Linked DNA regions of Homo sapiens: regions 1, 2 and 3 are each linked to region 4. The links come from fine-mapping of genetic effects on gene expression. A gene starts in region 4. Each other region holds a variant in brackets. All regions are shown on one strand. Distances are between the middles of the regions. Region 1 overlaps SEC23B (SEC23 homolog B, COPII component). Region 2 overlaps DTD1 (D-aminoacyl-tRNA deacylase 1). Region 3 holds the start of DZANK1 (double zinc ribbon and ankyrin repeat domains 1). Region 4 holds the start of DTD1 (D-aminoacyl-tRNA deacylase 1).

Region 1 (5,293 bases), 25 kb before region 4:
AGATTATAATTTATTTGTATTCCTGTCTTTGTCCTTTTTCTTGCACTATAAAATTATAAGGTCATAAATGTTTTGGTACTTGTAGATGTTTATGTGCTTTTTGTATCCTAACTTTTAGAATCTAAATAAAATCAGAGGTAATGTATTTTGGCAGCTTGTTTAGGTGAGAATCTTAATGATCATAAAGGAAATAAATCTAGATGCAGAAAGTACTGGCTAAAATATTGCTAATACAAATGTGATTTCCTGAGGTCTCTGTGTGAGTGTGTATGTGTTTTAAGTGACTTCCTTAAGAGGTGTTTCCTGAACCTAATTCTCATAATTAAAGTAATGTATATGCAGGATCAAAATGAAACAAATATACCTTATCCTAAAGAGCTCATAACAAATAAGTTACCTCCACTCTATAAACTCAGACCTACTTTTTGAAGATAACTGCTTTTAACCTCTCCTTACAAGATTTTTGTTGTTGATGTATTTAATTTTAGCCCATGTCTCAATTCTCATTTTCAAAGAATCAATATATTAATATACCTTTGGTCATTTTTGTATTTTTATTTTTATATTATCAAGATTGGTAAAATGTATATTCTGGGTCAGATACAGTGGCTCACACCTGTAATCCCAGTGCTAAATTTAGGAGGCCAATGCAGGAGACTCACTTGAGGCCAGGAGTTTAAGACCAGCCTGGGCAACATAGCGAGACTGTCTCTACAAAAAATTTTAAAAGTTACTGGGCCATGGTGGTGTGTGACTGTAGTCCTAGCTACTTGGGAGGCTAAGGCAGGAGGATCACTTGAGCCCAGGAGTTCAAGGTTGCAGTGGGCTCTCATCATGCCACTGCACTCCAGCCTGGGTGGGAGAGCAAGACCCTGTTTCAGGAAAAAAAAGAGATTATATTCTGGCCTATTATCATATTTTTTGTCACTAAGTTGATTGTCAAAGCTGAAAGCTCCTAAGAAGCATTTACACAGCCGTGATGATGTAAATATTGTTCCAGTCCAAGCCAGGTAGGATGACATTTTTCTCTAGGGTGCTAGTGTCCCAGTCAGTCCCTATGTCACTTGTAGGAAAACATTCCAAAGGACAGAATCAGAGTTACTTTCTTACATTCCATCATGCCGCATGTTGGTTTGATCCCTATTTGGATTATGATTTCTTAGATTTGCTGTGGTTTTCCCCAGAATTTCTAAATTTTGTTTGCTTTCTGAGAGAAGAAATATTTTGCTTTCTATTTACTAAGAAATTCTAGCCTATTCTACTGAATGAAGTCCATTTTTTTCTTCTTTGGAGGCCACTGATGTCCCCTTTTAAGGGGGGCCAATAACTTTGACCTACTGCACAACTGTCATCCAGGAATTTCTTCTGTTTGGAATCTCGGGTTAGTTCCACTCTTCCCTTTATTCCATAAGGCATTTTGCAATCTCAAATGACTTTTACTAAAAGGAGTACTTGGGGAGAACTCACTGCATCTTAGCATATCTGCAAATCTATTCTGTCTTCACACTTTATAGCTTTGCCAGGTAATATAGTTTGGATATTTGTCCCCTCCAAGTCCGTCATTGAAATGTAATCCCCAGGATTGGAGGTGGGGCCTGGTAGGAGGAGTTTGGGTCATACCGCTGGATCCTTCATGAATGGCTTGGTGCCATCCTCACAGAAATGAGTGAGTTCTTGTCCTGGGTTCAAATGAGGTATGATTGTTTAAAAGTGTGTTGGCTGGGCACAGTGGCTCATGCCTATAATCCCAGCACTTAGGGAGGCTGAGGCGGGCAGATCACCTGAGGTCAGGAGTTTGAGACCAGCCTGGCCAACATGGTGAAACCCCATCTCTACTAAAAATACAAAAATTAGCCGGGTGTGGTGGCTTGCGCCTGTAATCCCAGCTACTCAGGAGGCCGAGGCATGAGAATGGCTTGAACCCAGGAGGCAGAGGTTGCAGTGAGCCGAGATCGCACCACTGCACTCCCTGGGGGACAGAGCGAGACTGTCTCAAAAAAAATTTTTTTAAAGTGTTACCTCCCCCACCTCTTCCTCTCGTTCTTGCCATGTGGTACATCGGGCTACCTCTTCACCTTCTGCCCTGATTGTAAGCTTCCTGAGGCCTTCACCAGAAGCAGATGCTGGCACCATGCGTCCTGTACAGCCTACAGAACCGTAAGCCATAAGCATAA[A/G]CCGTAAACCTCTTTTTAAAATAAATTACCCAGTCTCGGGTGTTCCATTACAGAGATCCAAAGACAGACTAACCCACTGGGTCTAAAAAGTATAGGCCCAAGATAATCTCAGAACTTTGGAGTCATTCTTTCATTCGTTCAACAAATAACTATCCGGTACTTGTTGTCTATGGAGTAGTCTTCTAGGCATTGGGAATACTGCCAATAAAACAAAAATTCCTGTTTTCATAGAGCTTATGTGTTAGTTAGGGAAGACCAACAATAACAATGTTAGAAGTAAATGATATGGCCGGGCGTGGTGGCTCATGCCTGTAATCCCAGCACTTTGGGAGGCCGAAGTGGGCGGATCACCTGAGGTCAGGAGTTTGAGACCAGCCTGGCCAACATGGCGAAACCCTTTCTCTATTAAAAATACAAAAATTAGCCAGGCATGGTGGTGCACACCTGTAATCCCAGCTACTTGGGAGGCTGAGGCAGGGACAAATTGTTTGAACCCAGGAGATGGAGGTTGCAGTGAGATTGTGCCACTGCACTCCAGCCTGGGCAACAGAACGAGACTCCGTCTCAAAAAAATAAAAAACAAAAAAGAAATGAAGTAAATGATACATTAGAAGGTAATGAGTGCTATGTAGGAAAATGAAGCTGGAAGCTCCTATTAATTGGATGTTGGAACAGCTGGATTGATTGCAATACTCTGTTTTGAATTTGTATTCGAATACAAGTTATTGTATTTCTTTTTGTCTCTGCCCTACATTCTAGCAGAATTCTAGCAGAGTTTCCTATCTTAAAATGTTGAACATTGGCCAGGTGCGGTGGCTCACACCTGTAATCCTAGCACTTTGGGAGGCTGAGGTGGGCAGATCACTTGAGGTCAGGAGTTCAAAACCAGCCTGGCCAACATGGTGAAACCCCATCTCTACTAAAAATATTAAAAAATTAGCCAGGAGTGGTGGTGGGCACCTGTAATCCCAGCTACTTGGGAAGCTGAGGCAGGAGAATCACTTGAACCTCGGAGGTGGAGGTTGCAGTGAGCTGAGGTCACGCCACTATACTCCAGCCTGGGTGACAGAGGGAGACTTCATCTCAAAAAAAAAAAAAAAAAAAAAAGTTGAACATTTACATTTTTCTGTGCGTTTTCCAAGAATATTTTTAGTTTTGGATATAATTTTTAACACATCATATAGAAGAATACATAAAGTTGTCTGTACAGATTAAGGCCAAAACATCCTCTTTGGCTTTTCTGTTTCAAATTAACAGAAAAAAGACTGTGTGATAGACCCAGCTAACTCTGCGGTTCTCTCTAGTGTCAGTGAGTTAAGGAGCTGAGGGAACTGCATGGTATGACATGGCCATGCAGGTCCCACCTTAGGGTACCAGTGACGTTTTTCCACAGAATGTAGGGGGTGGCAGGGTGATAGTGCTGTGTGGAAAACAGCTATCATGAGAAGGGGCCACTGAGCCCAGTATGCCCAGTGAGGACTCTGAACTCCATCTTTTTATTAATTGTTAATTTTTGTGGGTATTGAACTCCATCTTGAAGGTAGGGCAAGCCTCTGACTTATCTTAGGCAGAGGGTGAAATGATAATTTAAGGTTTGAAAGACACTCCAGAGGGGGAAGGATGAGAGGAGACTGTAATCCAAGTGAGAAATGAGGCCTAAACAGAGACAGGGTATTTAGACAGAGGTGACAGAGGATGTCAGGTGAGATGATTCCAAGTTCCTGGCTTGGGCAATTTCTCAATCACTCTCTGAATCAGGGAAGAGAAAGGGAAGGTTTGTTTCCTGTTGGGAGTGGCATTGATAAATTCAATTCGGAACATTTTTTTAGTTTCAGGAGCTTGTGGAATATGCAGCCGAGGATGCATAGCAGGTTGGCAGTAACATGAATTTGCTTTCAGAGAATCTGGAGTAGATTTGAGAGTTATTAACATATAACATAGGTATCATGAGTAAGGCTGATGAGAAGGATGAGAAGAGACGCAAGCTTGAAACAATACCAATTTTTCTGTTTTGTCTATAACTATTGAGCTATAGTTCACATATAATAAACTGCACCCATTTAAAGCATACAATTGGATAAATCTTGACAGAAACCACCACAATAATCAACATACAGAACATTACCATCACCTCTCAAAGTCTCCTCAGACCCTTTTAGCCCTTCCCTCTCTCCATGCCCTTACTGCAGACAACTACTCATCAGCTTTCTCCCACTGGAGTTTGCTTCTAGAATTTCGTGACTGGTTTCTTTGGTGTCTAGCTTGCTTTTTCACTTAGCATAATCCATTTTGAGATTCATCGTATGGTTGTATTTATCAGTAGTTCTTTTTTTTTTTTTTTTTTTTTTTTTTTGAGAAGGAGTCTCACTCTGTCACCCAGGCTGGAGTGCAGTGGTGTAATCTCGGCTCACCACAACCTCCGCCTCCTGGATTCAAGTAATTCTCCTGTCTCAGCCTCTGGAATAGCTGGGATTACAGGCGCCCGCCACCATGCCCGGCTAATTTTTGTATTTTTAGTGGAGACGAGGTTTCACCATGTTGGCCAGGCTGGTCTCGATCTCCTGACTTGAGGTGACCCACCCATCTTGGCCTCCCAAAGTGCTGGGATTACAGGTGTGAGCCACCCGTACCCAGCCAGTAGTTCCTTTTTATTTGTAAGTGGTATCCCACGTTTTGTTTAGCCATTTACTCGATGGGTATTGGGGGTGGTTTCTATTTTTTCCTATTAAGAATAAAACTATGAACATTCATGTACATGGCTGTGTGCAGACACAGGTTTTCATTTCTCATGGATAACTAGAAACGGAATGCCTGGGTTATATGGTAGGCATATGTTCAACTTTTTAAAAACTAAGTTTTGCAAAGAGATTGTAACATTTTATGTTCCCATCAATAACAGTTCCAATTATTCCAAATCCTTACAGCTCTTGGCATTCTCAATCTGATTTTAGCCATTCTAGTAGGTGTGTAATGGTCTCTTATTGTATTCTTTTAATGTCCATTTCTGTGATGACTAATGATGCTACTGTGCTTATTGGTCATTTGTATATCTTCTTTCGTTCTATTCAAATTTATTGCCTGGTTTTTAGTTGGGCTGTATTTTTATAACTGAGTTGTAA
Region 2 (5,293 bases), 160 kb after region 4:
TTGTGTTAGTGGAATCCTACTGTATATAGCCTTCTGAAGCTAAATTTGTTTTGTATAACATGATTTTCAAGATTTATCTATTTTTTTTAATTAAAAAAAATTTTTTTTGAGACAGTCTTCCTCTGTCACCCAGGCTGGAGTGCAGTGACATGATCTCAACTTACTGTAACCTCTGCTTGCTGGGCTCAAGCGATCCTCCCGTCTCAGCCTCCCCAGTAGCTGGGACTACAGGCATGTGCCACCACGCCTGGCTAACCTTTGTATTTTTTTTTTTTTTTTTTTTTTGTAGAGACAGGGTCTCTCTATGTTGCCCAGGCTGGTCTCAAACTCCTGAGCCCAAGCAGTCGCCCACCTTGGTCTCCTAAAGTGCCGCTATTGCAGGCATGAGCCACCACCTCTGACCAAGACTTGGCTATTTTGATATATGTAGATCTACTGTACAATATTGCTTTAGGGGACCAGACCACATTACACGTATCTGTCCTCCTAATGTTGATGGACATTTGGGTTGTTTCTAGGTTTTTGCAAATACAAATGACACTACAGTCCATGTTCTCAGAAGCCCCCACTGTGCACACAAGTGGAAATTTATCCAGGGGAGTTTTCGGAGGAGAGTTGCTGAGTCAAAGGTGAAGTGATGTCTTCATTCACAAAATCTAATTAGTATATTAACCAAACTTAGCTGTATTCTACAGCTTTTCAGGTAAATGGGGAGTAGGAAAGAATAAGCCAGGGGTCCTCAACCCCCAGGCCAGGGACCGGTACTAATCCCTGTGGCCTGTTAGGAACTAGTCTGCACAGCAGGAGGTGAGCAGCCTATGAACGAGCATTATCACCTGAGCTCCGCCTCCTGTCAGATCAGCAGTGGCCTTAGATTCTCATAGGAGCGGGAACCCCATTGTGAACTGTGCATGCGGGGGATCTAGGTTGCAGGCTTCTTATGAGAATCTCACCAATGTCTGATGCTCTGAGATGGAACAGTTTCATCCTGAAACCATCCCCTCTTCTGTCCCCCATCTCACAGAAAAATTGTCTTCTATAAAACCGGTCCCTGGTGCCAAAAATGTTGGGGACCACTACTATAAGTCAATTATTAATAAATTTGATTTCCTGGACCCAATTGAGAGCTACTGGTTGGTTGTTCATCTCTCGAAGGGTTAACTCAAAGTCTGTTCATAGTGGAAGAAATGATCTGGCAGATTGGGGGAAGTGAATCCTCTTTGTGTCTTGGATGTGGGGCAGGGACCAGCAGGGAGAAGCCAGCCCTTCAATAAGTTTCCTTCTTTTTATGTAAACTAGAAAAAGTTCACAGACTTAGTCTGGGAGGGAGATAAAACTGGGTATTGCTGTCTCTTGTGTTTTTTGGTCTAAGAAAATTCCGTGGTTCAAAACTTGGCCGGTCTTCTCTGCTGGGTTTCTCAGCAGGCTTTCCTGTAGTGGCTGGGCTGCTGCTCAGTGTTAGATGATGGAAGCTTCTTTCAGCCATCTAGCTGATGCTTTCTTTGAAGAACTATTCAGGGAAGAAGTGGGCCCAGGTTCCATTCGAGTGAGACATCAGGGGCATGTCCCCTGCTGGCCTGGTGGGAGCCTAAGAAGGCTCTAGTGGCCAGTGTCCTGAGTGTTGCCACCACGCAGCCTGCAAGCAAGTCAGCCTTCAGTCTCAAATCAACTGGTAACTGAGACGGTGTTCAGTGTGCTTAATGCACTTTGTTTCACAGCCTTCTCTGTAATCTTCAGCAAAGAGTAATGTGTTTTGAACATTCTTTAGAAAACACGTGGTGTGGCATGGTGGCTCACACCTGTAATCACAACACTTTGGGAGGCCGAGGTGGGTGGGTTGCTTGAGCCCAGGAGTTCAAGAACAGCTTGGGCAACATGGTGAAACTCTGTTTCTACAGAAAAATTGGCATGCACCTGTAGTCACAGATACTTGAGAGGTTGAGGTGGGAGGATCACTTGAACCCAGGAGGTTGAGGCTGCAGTGAACTGTGACCGCACCACTGTACTTCAGCCTGGGCAACAGAGTGAGACCCTGTCTCAAAAAAAAAAAAAAAAAAAAGAAAAGAAAAGAAAAAAGAAAACAACAAGTAGAAGGTAACTTGATGAGAAAAAAAACTATCAAAGAAAAAAGTAAGAGATGAAAAGCCTTCATATATGGAGCTCTTCTAAGGCTGTTGAAGAAGGCTGTGGCATGACCGCTCCCTCATACTGTGTGCCAAGTTGAATTATGGTTGGGGAAAAGTCTGAGAGTGATTACTCCTATGACTAATGATTTGTTTCAGTGATTCAGGTGCCTGTTGGAAAAACATTCTGTGTATAATTTGGTATATCTGAACCACTGTGCTCTGCCAGGTTATCAGAAAAAAACTTTTCAATGGTTCCCACCTGGGAAGTCACTGGTGTGTGGGATACACAGGCATGTGTTTGTGTTTGTAAAATATTCTTTTTTATTTTTATTTAATCAGCTGTCAAAGCTCGAAAAACAGCAGCAGAGGAAAGAAAAGACCAGAGCTAAGGGACCTTCTGAATCAAGCAAGGAAAGAAACACTCCCCGAAAAGAAGACCGCAGTGCCAGCAGCGGGGCTGAGGGCGACGTGTCCTCTGAACGGGAGCCGTAGCTCAGGAGGCAGAATTCAGGTAGGAGTTTCCCTGCTTGGCTTCATCTTCCCACATTTTGGGGAAGCAGCAATGAATAGGAGGGAATAGCTGCTGAGGCTGAATTCATTCATTTCACAGCGTTCATCCATAGCTTCCTTAAATCTGCTGCCTTCCAGGATGGAGACAAAAGTTAGTGTGTTAGTCCGTTTTCACGCTGCTGATAAAGACATACCTGAGACTGAGTAATTTATAAAGATAAAGAAGTTTAATGGACTCGCAGTTCCACGTGGCTGGGGAGGCCTCACAATCATGGTTGAAGGCAAAAGGCATTTCTTACATGGCGGCAGGCAAGAGAGTATAAGGGTCAAGCACTCCAGCCTGGTGACAGAGCAAGACTCCATCTCAAAAAAAAAAAACAAAAAACAAGTGAAAGGGGTTTCCCCTTATAAAACCATCAGCTCTTGTGAGACTTGTTCACTACCAAGAGAACAGTATGGGGGAAACTGCCCCCATGATTCAGTTACCTCCCACCAGGCCCCTCATCTTGAATTGTAGTTCCCATAATTTCCACGTGTGTGTTCCTACGTGGGAATT[A/G]TGGGAGCTACAATTCAAGATGAGATTTGGGTGGGGACACAGCCAAACCATATCAGTTAGCAAATAAGATTGTATTTTATTCATTGAGATGCAGGAGGGTGGCATACCACAGGCCTGGGGTGCCCACCTGGGGGTGGAACCTGTTTGTGCCACCTTCTCTGGCTGCCTGTGCCAGTCCACAGCTGCTGCTGTGATTGCCTGTGCAGAACACTCACTCACCGATACAGAATCCAGATGCAGATGCAGAGTCCACTTGCGCTCCTGCATCTCCCTTCCTGCTCTTAGCCACTCTAGCAAAGGGCACTGCCATCTCAGCAGCCTACTTTCATTGCCACCTGCCCCGTGTTCTGAAATCCTTCACAGTGCCCCGTGTGGCACTGTGAGTTTACTTTTCCTAAAATGGCATTTTATTCTTATTGTGGCTCACTGTAGCACGGAGTCCACCTCCCTGCCTGAACATCAGAGGCCTTGAAAATGTGATGCGGCCATCTGATGGCACTGTGCCTAGTTCCTCCCACCAGGGAACCTGTTTATTTTGCCAAGCACTGGACCAAATACTGGGTGCAGATTTGAGGGACCCAGGACCTGTCATGGGGAGGTCACAGGCTCAGGGAGAAGCATAGGAACAGTTATACTACAGCACGGTGCGTGTGGCAGGAGTGTGAACAGGTGTGGGGTGGAGATGGGAGGTCAGGAGAGGCCCCTCAGAGGCCTGGGACCAGATCTGGAAGGACAGGTGGCAGTGGGGAGGCAGATGAGGGGCAAGGGCAGGGGAGAGCTGCCTGAGCCAAGAGAAGAGCAGTGCAAATGCCATCTGGAGGTTGGGGGGCAAGGACAGGAGAGTTTGGGAATGGAGGAATTGCAGAAGGGTGGGAGTGTTGAGTGCCAAGTGGAGTGGGAGGGCAGGGAGCATCTCTGAACTTAGAGAAATAGGAGGTCTGGATTGTATAGGGTCTGGTATGCAACCCTGAGGAATTTGGATTTTATCCTGGGGCGGGAGGGACCTCTGAAAGGTTTTAAGTGTACAAGTGACATCATCAGATACAAAGTTTAAAAAGAGCACTCACTTGAGCAGCTTTGGGGAGTGAGGCTGGAAGCAGATAGGCCCATTAGGAGGTGATTGCAGAAGTCCAGAGAAAAAATTATAGTAGGAACAGAGGGGAAAGAGTGGGATTGAAAGATGTAAAGGAAATAGAATCATTTCAACGTGGTGACTGATTAGATTGGAAGAGGAGACATCCAGAAGGATGAGGGAGGAAGATGGGGGTTGCTGACGGTACCTATTTTGGGTGTGTTGTGTTTGAGGTGCCTGTTGGCAGCCAATGGTGATGCCAGTCGTCTGCTGAGTCTGTGGCTTTAGAGCTGGGGAGCCAGGTCTCGGACATACAATTTGGAGCCTTCAGCTCACAGACTGTGGTTAAAACCAAGTTAGGAGACAGAATTCACCCAAGAGACACCAAATTATGATAGAAGAACATCCAGAAGGTGGTTTTCAGCCTTCTCTTTCTCTTCTGAAAGAGAGCAAGGGTCAGAAGTGTACCTATGAAATGGCTTTTAGGATCCACAATACCAGGAAGTGAGATATATTAGGCCAGGTGTGGTGGCTTACACCTGTAATCCTAGCACTTTGGGAGGTTGAAGTGAGAGAATCACTCGAACCCAAGAGTTTGAGACCAGCCTGGGCAACATGGTGAGACCCCCGTCTCTTAAAAAAAAAAATTAGCTGAGCATGGTGGTGCTTGCCTATCATCCTAGCTACTCAGAAAGCTGAGGTGGGAGGATTGCTTGAGTTTGGGAGTTGGAGGCTGCAGTGAGCCATGATTGCAGCACTGCACTCCAGCCTGGGTGACAGAGTGAGACCCTGACTCTTAAAAATAAAATTTAAAAAAGATACATTAGTTGTAATTGGGCACAGTGGCACCAGCTCCCAAATGGATACACAGACGAGAGGAACAGAATGGAGAGCTCAGGAAGGGTGGATTGTTGGTTCATAGACAGTTTTAGGGGAGGGGACTGGACAGTGAGTCCTGTTGTCCTCTTAACTGTTCCCTCATCACTGTGTTTTCCTGCTAGTGTTGTGCAGGGAGACAACAGCACTGTG
Region 3 (5,293 bases), 120 kb before region 4:
CAGTTCTAGTATTTGAAAGCTGCAAAGACACTTTAGAAGGACTGCAGAGTACTACTTCTCAGTGGAAAGGAAGTTTGCAAGAATATAAACAGTGACCAATAAACACAAGCCTCCCGTTTCATCTACTGTATTTATAAATCCTGGTATTAATAATTAACTACCAGTATGAAAGCCTTACTGGTCTTTTTGGAGGTGAGGGTGGGGAGGAAGGTTGTCATAATTAATGCACAGAAGGTTTCAGGGGGAAAAAACGCTCACCTTAACACAACAACCATTTACATCTCTGTATTGCCTTTTCAAATTTCATTAATAATCCATAGATTTTGCCCAATTATAATCTACATATTCATTCCATTTTTATAGTCTACTTCTTGCATTCTCACTGTATTATTTAGTTTTCCCTGTACTTATTTATCCATTTGTGGCTGGGCATTTAGGCTATTTCTAGTTTCTTTTTAGTTTTGCCTGTTGCAGTTCTAATAATGCTGATCTGAACATGTCTGCAGTTTGAGCTTTGTCACAGACTGTATTCTCAAAAATGGGGTACCTAAATTTAAGGGGTGAACTTAATGCCTTGTTGGATAGTTCCGGATCTAGGGCCAAGAATATAAACTACAGATACTGACAGCACAACAATAGCTCCTACGGGAGTGTGGCTGGACTTGAGACTTGCCCATAGTCGCATTTCCATTTAAGTGAAAGGCAGATAAAATAAAAGTAGTTGAAAAATTCTAAATAAAAAATATGTAGGAGAGGAAGTAATTCGCGAGCGTCAACTAGCAGCTGCCCTTAGGAAGCTGGGGTGGCCAGTGGGCCCCACGCAAAGGGAATCAAGAAAAAAGGCGGATCCGCCAGGCCCAAATGGCAACGTGCAGTCAACAGGATCCCCAGACCCCTCAACTCTCCCAACGTGGACCGCCCCCTCGCAGCCCGGATCCGGAATCCCGTTTGGTTGTTCCCGCCCATCAGGGGCTGCCAAGGACACCTGCATCCTTTCGGCTGGAGTAAGGGAAGCTCTTCCCCTCCTCTAGCCGCCCTCCTCTTCCTCTAACCGCGGGGCCCGGGATCGGGACCCCTAATGCATCTCTGCCGCGCCCAACCCAGTCGCCAGCCTCTCACCGCCTCTTGCCTCCTCCTTCGCCGCCGCCCGGGTTACCACAGACGCGGCGAGCCGCGCCCCGCCCACTGGGTGCTGGGCAGATGATTGGTGGAGACTCAGCTTCTTAGCAACTAGACCGGCCCCTGCCGCTCCGCAGGGAGCCTGGTACCCGCCTGGAGTTCCTTTCCCAGTGCTTTCCCATAGGCATCTAAGAATATTCCTTCACAGAGTTGCCAAGTGCTAAAAGTTGGTTTCCCAACTCAGAATGAAGGAACCAGGCTTGTGCGTCCGATGGGCATTGACATTCTGGAAAACAAGAATAAGAAGCTGTAGCGGCGCCTGTAAGTGGGCCGGAGCAGGCGCAGCTTGGCCACCTCCCGCCGAAAGGCAAGGAAGGACCGGCTGCGACACGAGGAAGAAGGCCCCTCGGCCTCAGCAGAGCGCTATCCTCCACTGGTTCCCCGGGTTCCCCGGCTTGCTACCGGGCTGCTCCGTGCATCTTTCCCCCCAGGCGTCAGGAACTGCGCCCTCATGGCGGAGGTGAAGGTGAAGGTGCAGCCGCCTGACGCGGATCCGGTCGAAATAGAAAACAGGTAAACCAGTGAGGCTCCGGCTTGGCACTCCATCAGGCGCCCAGTCATTTGGGCAGCTGGACCCCTTCTCCGGGATCCCTTGGGAGTGGCCGGAGCGGGTTAGGTGAGCACGCGGGAAAAACGATTGCGGGGTTCTGGACCCACTTGTTCCTTCCCATCCTGGGAGAGCAGAACTCAAGAAGTTCAAAATGGGTTTGACAGCTTGCAACTTTGTGTAGCTGGCTGGCTTTGCCCTGATACTTTTGGGGAAGTTGTGATGACGTGCTGCCTTCCTACTTTGACGCGATCAGTGCTTTGAGAGGAGCCCTCGGCTTTCTTTCCCTGTAGAACACTTGTGAATACATGTTCTGATCCAGGATCGCTCTTGTCACTAAGGGAACGTCTATGACAAAACGTTTAGGCGGAGTTAGGGCGCAGTTGGTGATTACGAAGTAACATTAAGCCAGGTGGTTTCAGTGCAGTATTGAACTCAAGACTTTTAGGACACCCAAAGCCTCTGCCACTTTTATTTTTATTTGTTTGTTTGTGAGACAGAGTCTCGCTCTGTCGCCAGGCTGGAGTGCAGTGGCGCGATCTCGGTTCACTGCAATCTCCGCCTCCCGGGTTCAAGCGATTCCCCTGCCTTAGCCTCCCGAGTAGCTGGGACTACAGGCTCGCGCCACCACGCCCAGCTAATTTTTTATGTTTTAGTAGAGACGGGGTTTCACCATGTTGTCTGGGATGGTCTCGATCTCCTGACCTCGTGATCCGCCCGCCTCGGCCTCCCAAAGTGCTGGGATTACAGGCGTGAGCCACCGCGCCCGGCCCA[G/A]TTTTATATTTTACCGAGGCACTGCCACTCTTAGATTTTCACGTAGTTTTAAAAGACTCAACTTTCTCAGACTGTTAGGAATAATACATTTGTTGATGTCGACTAGGTGAAGATTTTGACTTTTTTTGTTTGGTAGGTATAATTCCAAAAACAGGCCCCATTATGGTGAATTGTCATAACAAATTTTGGCTTCCTACCAGAAACATCTGCATTTGCCTCCTGCTTGCAGATTTATGGCTTAACTTTGTCATGCTTATTACACCCGAGAAAACTGAAGTCTCAGCTTTAATATTTTTTCTGTGATTTCATTAGACTTTTGCTCTAATTTAAAGTTCTTATTAGTGAGGAAAAGAAATATTCTTAAATAACAATAATACTGTAAACATGTATTTAGAAATCATCTTCTTCAATTTCTAACATGCTTTGATCCAAAACCATCACAGAAACCCAGATTGTCTGCCAAATGTGAAAAAGGCACAGTTTCAAACTATTCTACTTGTATTTTTACCCCCACTGTCTCTTGAAACAGGTAACCATGAAGGATAACATTAATACCTTTGTTTCTAGGATTATAGAATTATGTCACCAGTTCCCTCATGGAATCACAGACCAAGTAATTCAGAATGAAATGCCTCATATAGAAGCCCAGCAGCGGGCAGTAGCCATCAATAGGTTGTTGTCTATGGTAAGGTGAATCTAACTATTTTGCATAATTACTGATATGCTGATTATCACTGGTTTTTATTATGTAGTTGTGATGGTTAATTTCATGTCAACTTGACTAAGATACAGGATTCCTACATATCTAGTTAAATATTTTATTGGAGTGTCTGTGTGGGTGTTTCTGAAAGAGGTTAGCATTTTGAATTGGTGAACGGAGTAAAGTAGATATGGGTCCAGTTGGGTGAGCATCATCCAATCCATTCAGGGCCTAAATAGAACAAAGTGGCAGAGGAAGATTGAATTCACTCTTTGAATTCAATCTTGAGCTGGGCTATGAATCTTGTGCCCTCAGCACTCCTGGTTCTCAGACCTTCAGACTTGGACTGGTATCTACACCATCAGCTCTCTGCTCTCAGCCCTTTGATCTGCAACACCAGCTTTCCTGGGTCTCCAGCTTGCAGAGGGCAGATGATGGGACTCCTCAGCCTCCATAATCACAGAGCAAATAGCTTCTGATGAATCTTTCAAGAGGGAGGTGTATCCTATTGGTTCTTTTTCTCTGGAGAACCCTAATACAGCAGTCATAAAACGAGAAAGTGTGTTAGGTTTGACTGATAAGACTCTAAACCAGGAAACAGCTCAAACTACCTGAATTGAAAAAAGAAGAAATAATTATGCGTTATAAGACAAATGAAATAAATGTATTATGGTATAACTGTTGTATTTATTAATTGCCACTGCCATACATAGGTCTAGTCTGTTCTCACCTTCTGTTTGCTTCCTACTGCTGGTGTTGGGCCATTTCCCATAAAATATTCCACCCCCCGATTTTCCTATGAGTTGTCACAGAGCCCAGTCATCAGGGTTTCATTCTCCACATTGTCACTCTGAGCATTTCAGGAAGCAAGAATGAGTCCAGTTGAATGAAGAATGTTGGGCTTTGGGGAGGAAGTGCAGCCTTAGCCCCCAGTGACATTGCAATGGAATTTATCAGTGAAGCCATTCTCCATCTGTCCAGAAACAAACAAGCAAGACTGTCTAAAAACCCACCAAGTGGTGCCGATGCTCTAAATCTCCCTTACTTTCCCTCATCACCAAAACATCCTTTTCCTAAGAGCATTTCAGTTTGGCTTTAGTAGCAGTTAGGTTAAAGAGTTCTACGCCAAGGCCTCATCTGAATGACTGATTTGTTTTTTAAGTCTACTAGCCTTGTTGGATTTCCAAGGGCTCTGGATGTGGAGATTTGGGGTCCGATGAATCTTTTCTTAAACCTTTCCCATCAATTTTCTAGCTCAGGAGTTGGCAAACTTTTTCTATAAAGTGCCAGACAGTATATGTTTTAGGCTTTGTGAGCCATATGATTTCTGTCACAACTACACTGTCATTTTAGCAAGAAGCAGCCATGGATGATGATACATAAACAAATGGCTACAGCCATGTTCCAACAAAACTTTGGTTATAAAAACAAGCTGTGGAGCAGATTGCTCACCCCTGTTCTAGCCCAAGGACAAAGGAATGTTGCTGATTTCTAGTTATTTCACTGTGGTGAAGGTCTTCAGCTCTAGGAAAGACAGAGGAAGGGATTCTGGGAGGTTGTAGCAGTGGAAAAAGTTCTTTTCTTCCTCTGATCGCCCTCTCAGCTCTTTCCTTCTGACTGAAAATCATCTTCAGCACCTCTCTTTTACCACCTCTGCCACCACCCACCCACTGCGAGTCCTATTGGCTATAGGTTGTATGCAGGCAGTAGTAGAGCTATCAAAGGATATTAAGAAAGGGAGTGATTATTAATAAATCATGTAATGTTTCTGATTTTAGCTCTTAAAAACAGTTCTTAAATTTGCTGTCCACACCCCCTCCATTTCTATCCCTGGTACTGCATCATGTTCAGGCTCATGGCTTTTACCTGGACAGCTGCAGTAGCATCTTAACTGGTTTCCATGACTCCATCTGTCTCAGAGAAGCCAGCCTGATTTGGGATTACAGTCATGAGCCACCGAGCCTGGCCCCTGATCTGTCTTAAATGCAGGTCTGACCAAGGCACTCTACCACCTACAATTTGTTTATACTGGAGATTCAAGTTCAAACTCCTGGGTTTCCCACACTGAGTCCCTGCATTGTTCACCAGCCTCA
Region 4 (5,293 bases):
TTTATTGTACCATAGGGGTGAACATTTTGAATTCCATTTTAAGTATGTTAACTTTTTTTTTTTTTTTTGAGACACAGGTTTACTTTGTCACCCAGGCTGGAGTGCAGTGGCAGTGATCCTGGCTCACTGCAACCTCCGCCTCTCGGTTTCAAGTGATTCCTGTGCCTCAGCCTCCCAAGTAGCTGGGATTATAGGTGCCCACCATCACGCCTGGCTAATTTTTGTATTTTTAGTAGAGATGGGGTTTCACCATGTTGGCCAGGCTGGTCTTGAACTCCTGACCTCAAGTGATCCACCTGCCTCAGCCTCCCAAAGTGCTGGAATTACAGGCGTGAACCACCACGACCAGCCCAATTTTCCCTTTTTTAGTCTTATTCTTTCAGGAGTGCACAATGGAGTTTTCCAGGGGCTCCGTGACATATAGTGACTTCATTGCTCTGATATTCATATGTAGGGGATTTATTATTGCTATTTTTAAATGCATTGATAAATCCATGTTAACTATTTCTCTTAGTTAAAAACAGTAAACATTTTTAGATATAATCCACCTAAACAAAAGCTATACTTTGTGCCCAATAATTTTTAAGAATGTAAAGGGATCCTGTGATCAAAATATTGAGACCTGCTGATTTTTCAAAAACTCAAATTTTACCAGTTGTTCCAATAATAAGCTTTTCCTTTTCTTGATTTTTCTGGCCAGGATACCACCCAGGTTAATTTAGTTTTCCTGTCTTTTTTTTTTTTTTTTTTTTTTTTGAGACAGAGTCTTGCTTTGTCACCCAGGCTGGAGTGCAGTGGCACGATATCGGCTCACCGTAACCTCCGCCTCCCGGGTTCAAGCAATTTTCTTGCCTCAGCCTCCCGAGTAGCTGGGATTACAGGCATGCGCTGCCATGCCTGGCTAATTTTTGTATTTTTAGTAGAGACGGGGTTTCACCATGTTGGCCAGGCAGGCCTCGAACTCCTGACCTCCAATGATCCGCCCACCTTGACCTCCCAAAGTGCTGGGATTACAGGTAGTTTTCCTGTCTTTTAAAAAGTCCACGGCTGGGCGCAGTGGCTCATGCCTGTAATCCCAGCACTTTGGGAGGCCAAAGCGGGCAGATCACCTGAGGTCGGGAGTTCGAGACCAGCCTGACCAACATGGAGAAATCTCATCTTTAATAAAAATACAAAATTAGCCGGGCGTGGCGGCGCATGCTTGTAATCCCAGCTACTCAGGAGGTTGAGGCAGAAGAATTGCTTGAACCCAGGAGGCAGAAGTTGTGGATAGCCAAGATCACACCATTGCACTTCAGCCTGGGCCACAAGAGCAAAACTGCATCTCAAAAAAAAAAAAAAAAAAAATCCTCCTTAATTCTCGGAATCCTACCTGGTTATTTTGTAGAATGTTCCTCAATTTATTTTTGTCCTATGTTTCATCATGATTGGATTCAGGTTATACATTATTTGGCAGAAATACCACAAGATTGATGTTGTGTCCTTCCCAGTGCAATATCAGGAGGCACATGATGTCTTGTTACTGGTTATGTTAACTTTGACAACGTTATTAAGGCAATTTAGTATTCAGTATTTAACAAACAAGCACACTAGTTTGTAGTCTTTTCTGGGCAAGTGAGGGTTTCTTCTCAATTTCAGTGCCTTTTCTACGCCCACCAATGCTATTAGTCACCTTTAAGGTGAAGACTGCTGAGATGGAATTATTTTTAGCAATGATAATAATTTGTTGGGGTAATAGTTGTACAGCCCTTTGCTGCCATCTAAGCACTTTTACGTGGTTTGGTTCATTTAAATCTAACAACCCAGTGAGGGGGCCAATTAGTAGCATTTATATTACATGAGAAATTAGAATTCTAGAATCACATACCTATTTATTATCATGACATGGCTAAGTCGAATTAATAGTGAGATAGGTAAATGGCTATTTTAGGCAGCAGATCCTTTTGTATGTGGTATCTGAAAAGCCACTGAGGCAGGAAGACAAGGAAGAAGAATTTGGGAGGATCTGCGTGCAGAGGAGTGGAAGAGGAAAGAGGAATACAATTAGAAATAGGATTCAGGCTGAATTTAAAGGCTTAGTGATGACGGGTTCTTAGGTTCGGGTATGTGGGAGAAAAAAACCAGCATAGAGACTACCTTCGGGGCAGAGTGGGTTCTGGGCACTGGGTAGGGGCTGGGCCCGGGATGGGGGGATCAAAGGGCTCTGGCGGGACCCAGATGTGGATGGGGCAGGGCCGAGCGTGGGGACTGGGCTTTTCAATGACGGGCGGGGTTACGGTTGGGCAGCAGGTGGGCGTGGCAGGCATAGGCGGAGTCAATCTATGAGTGGGTGGGCCTATCGCCAGGCCGAGAGTGGGCGTGGCCGACGTGGGGTGGGTAGCAGCCGACCGAGTCGGACCGGCCAGTTGGGCGCGCTTCCGGGTGTCACCTCCAGAGGGCGCCGGCTGCGGAGCCGCCCTCAGAGTCGCGAGGCCGGACGCAGCGCGGCGCCGCCCCACTCGCCCCAGCCGCCGCCATGAAGGCCGTGGTGCAGCGCGTCACCCGGGCCAGCGTCACAGGTCAGTCGGGCGGGGCCGGGCCCGGGAGGAGCCGCCCCTGACCCCCGCGACCGGCTGTCTTGCGTGGGGGGTCTTCCTGCGCCATCCTTGGGGCCGCTGCGGCCCCTCCGCGAGCCTGGTCCCCTTCGCGAGCTCGGTCCGCGCAGCCGCGAGTCCCCAGGGCCGGCTTCGGGGCAGCGCGGCGGCCGGAGAGCCCCCTGCACGTGCCCGACCGGCCCCGGCGCGCCCCTGGCTTCCGGCTCTCGGCAGAGGGTGCAGGACCAGCGCGCCTCATTCTCAGCACCTTTGTCCTGCGTGCGGGATGGCGGAGCCTCGGAGCATCTCCGTGGTCCGCTCTTCAGGGAGTGTTGATGAACCACGCTTAGAGCATTTCCGGAGCAGGCACTCCTCCCTTTTCACTGCTGTATTTTAAATGTTCAATTTTTGCCCATTTTTACGTATTCCAATTTTTATGGGGCTTGACTCAGGATGAAATGCACAGATGCGGAGAGTTGCTCCTTGGGCTGAGCTTTGACAGTTGCGTGCACGTACGTGACTGGAGCCTAGGCTGGATGAGGGGCGCCCCCTGCCCAGGACGCCCCTCGCCCTCGCCCGCTGAACTCTGCGCGGAGGGGTCGGGATCTAAAGAATTCAAGATGAAAACATTTCTCTTTTTCTTGTGGACCAAGCTACCCGACCCCTGGTCATCACTCAGCACTTTCGTCTCGGTTGGGCATCAGAGGTCCAGATGATTAGTGTAGATAAAGTAGTCGTTTTAAGAAAACCACGGTACGAAAGATATTTTTTAAAAAACATTTAAATGACAAGCTTTATATTGTCTTTAGTCTTTTCTGTCTTTATTGGCACAACTATATTGTTTCAGTTCAAATAATTTCAGATATCCTGTCCTTGGAGCCAGTCTGCACCAAATATGCGTTCTTGTGTCCACAAAAGTATGAATTAAAAACAAAACAGGCCGGGGGCTGTGGCTCACACCTGTAATCCCAGCTCTTTGGGAGGCCAAGGCGGGCAGATCACCTGAGGCCAGGAGTTCGAGACCAGCCTGGCCAACATAGAGAAACCCTATCTCTACTACAAATACAAAAATTAGCCGGGAGCGGTGGTTGGTGCCTATAATCCCAGCTACTCGGGAGGCTGAGGTAGGAGAATCGCTTGAACCCGGGAGGCAGAGGTTGCAGTGAGCCGAGATTGTGCCAGTAACCTCCAGCCTGGGCGACAGAGCGAGACTCTGTCTCAAAAAACAACAAACAAACAAAACCCCAAAACAAAAAACAAAACAAAACAAAAACAACAAAAAACCCTAAAGAAACAACCAAACCCACCAAAACCGTATATTTAAATCTAAGAGTCTATTTTTCAACCCCGCCTAATGATTTCTAAGCTGTTCTGGTAGCTTTGGTTTTGGAAATGGTCCTGGAATAATAGGGAATAGAGTAGCACTGGGATTTAGGAATTTTAAAGCTTTTATAACATTTCTGTAGATATTTAAATTCATGAAAACTGGGAAAATTCATAGATGAAAGATGTTTTGCATTATTGAGAAGAACCTTGCAGTCTGCTGCTGTGTGTGGTCGTCACTGACAGATTTAAATTTTGATCTCTCTCCTGAACTCTCCATCCTGCTAATCTGGAATATTGAAAATGTGTATTCTGTGAGATGTGCTGAATAAGAGTTTGGGTTATTTTGGTTCACTATTTAAGTTATATGCTTTCAGTTAAAACAACCAAACCTGCATATTAAAAAAGATAAGGGTGTTAATTATGGGAAAGTGTAAATAATTCGGGAATTCTGGGTTGGGGAACTGTGGAATTCTGTTAGAAGGGCCCTCCACTTATGCAGGCCTTCTAGTTGCATTGTAATGGAAAGGGATTTTCTGATTCCTTTAAAATGTGGCTGGTTTCACTGAAATGTGGCTGTGTTTGAATGGCATTTTATTTTAGGGGTTCTAAAATGTTAACTTCCTGTTTTATGGTCAGGACAGCATAGATTATCAGGAGTCACACATTTTATTTTATTTTAAAATAGTTGGTTGACTTCACATTTATTTTAAATTTATGCATTTATGGTTTGTTTGTTTTAGAGATGGGGTCTTGCTCTGTCACCCAGGCTGGAGTGCAGTGGCACTATTATAGCTTACTACAACCTCAAACGCTTGGGCTCAAGTGATCCTTTAGTTTCAGCATCCTGAGTAGTTAGACTACAGGCGTGTGCCGCCACCGCTATGTCCAGCTTAGGAGTCACACATTTTACTATGTGGTATATTCAATTTATGTGATTGGTCAAACACATTTTTTTTTATAGTAACCCTGTAATATCATTTGATGCCCAGTCCATCAGATTTCTCCAATTGGCTAATTGGTTTTGTTTTTGTTTTGAGAGAGTCTTGCTCTGTTGCCGAGGCTGGAGTACAGTGGTGCCATCTCTGATCACTGCAGCCTCTGCCTCCTGGGTTCAAGCGATTCTCATGCCTCTGTGTCCTGAGTAGCTGGTCTTACAGGTGCGCGCCACTGTGCCTGGCTAATTTTTTTGTATTTTTAGTGGAGACAGGGTTTTGCCATGTTGACTAGGCTGGTCTCAAATTCCTGGCCTCAAGTGATTTGCCTGCCTCGGCTTCCCAAAGTGCTGGGATTACAGGCATGAGCCACTGCACCCAGCTTGATCAAACACATTTTGATGCCTTAGGTTGGGTACTGTGATAATCTAATTTTTAAAAGTTTATTATGGCACATTTCAA

Evidence for each region. PIP is the estimated chance that this variant, and not a neighbour inherited with it, causes the effect.
Region 1: its variant is fine-mapped to the expression of DTD1 in whole blood (INTERVAL, PIP 0.95).
Region 2: its variant is fine-mapped to the expression of DTD1 in whole blood (TOPMed, PIP above 0.99).
Region 3: its variant is fine-mapped to the expression of DTD1 in whole blood (TOPMed, PIP above 0.99).

What each region holds. Positions count from the first base shown.
Region 1 is chr20:18,560,873-18,566,165 of GRCh38, forward strand. SEC23B (SEC23 homolog B, COPII component) reads left to right here. Exons shown (of 20, transcript NM_006363.6): 20 at 1-543. Among named protein-coding and RNA genes, the nearest start is that of SMIM26, 3.9 kb to the right of the region's middle. The variant A/G (reference allele first, on the strand shown) is at 2,175.
Region 2 is chr20:18,741,635-18,746,927 of GRCh38, forward strand. DTD1 (D-aminoacyl-tRNA deacylase 1) reads left to right here. Exons shown (of 6, transcript NM_080820.6): 5 at 2,466-2,637. The coding sequence ends at 2,618. Among named protein-coding and RNA genes, the nearest start is that of DTD1-AS1, 46 kb to the left of the region's middle. The variant A/G (reference allele first, on the strand shown) is at 3,193.
Region 3 is chr20:18,465,877-18,471,169 of GRCh38, forward strand. It overlaps DZANK1 (double zinc ribbon and ankyrin repeat domains 1), which reads right to left and starts at 1,154. Exons shown (of 21, transcript NM_001367614.1): 1 at 1,120-1,154. POLR3F (RNA polymerase III subunit F) reads left to right here and starts at 1,514. Exons shown (of 9, transcript NM_006466.4): 1 at 1,514-1,692; 2 at 3,068-3,185. The coding sequence starts at 1,631. MIR3192 (microRNA 3192) reads left to right here and starts at 4,739; the gene lies at 4,739-4,815. RefSeq lists enhancers at 1,034-1,652, 1,275-1,594. The variant G/A (reference allele first, on the strand shown) is at 2,501.
Region 4 is chr20:18,585,558-18,590,850 of GRCh38, forward strand. It overlaps DTD1 (D-aminoacyl-tRNA deacylase 1), which reads left to right and starts at 2,497. Exons shown (of 6, transcript NM_080820.6): 1 at 2,497-2,558. The coding sequence starts at 2,516. It overlaps LOC124904878 (a long non-coding RNA gene), which reads right to left and starts at 1,908. Exons shown (of 3, transcript XR_007067547.1): 1 at 1,868-1,908. RefSeq lists a silencer at 2,324-2,863 and enhancers at 2,634-3,133, 2,974-3,033.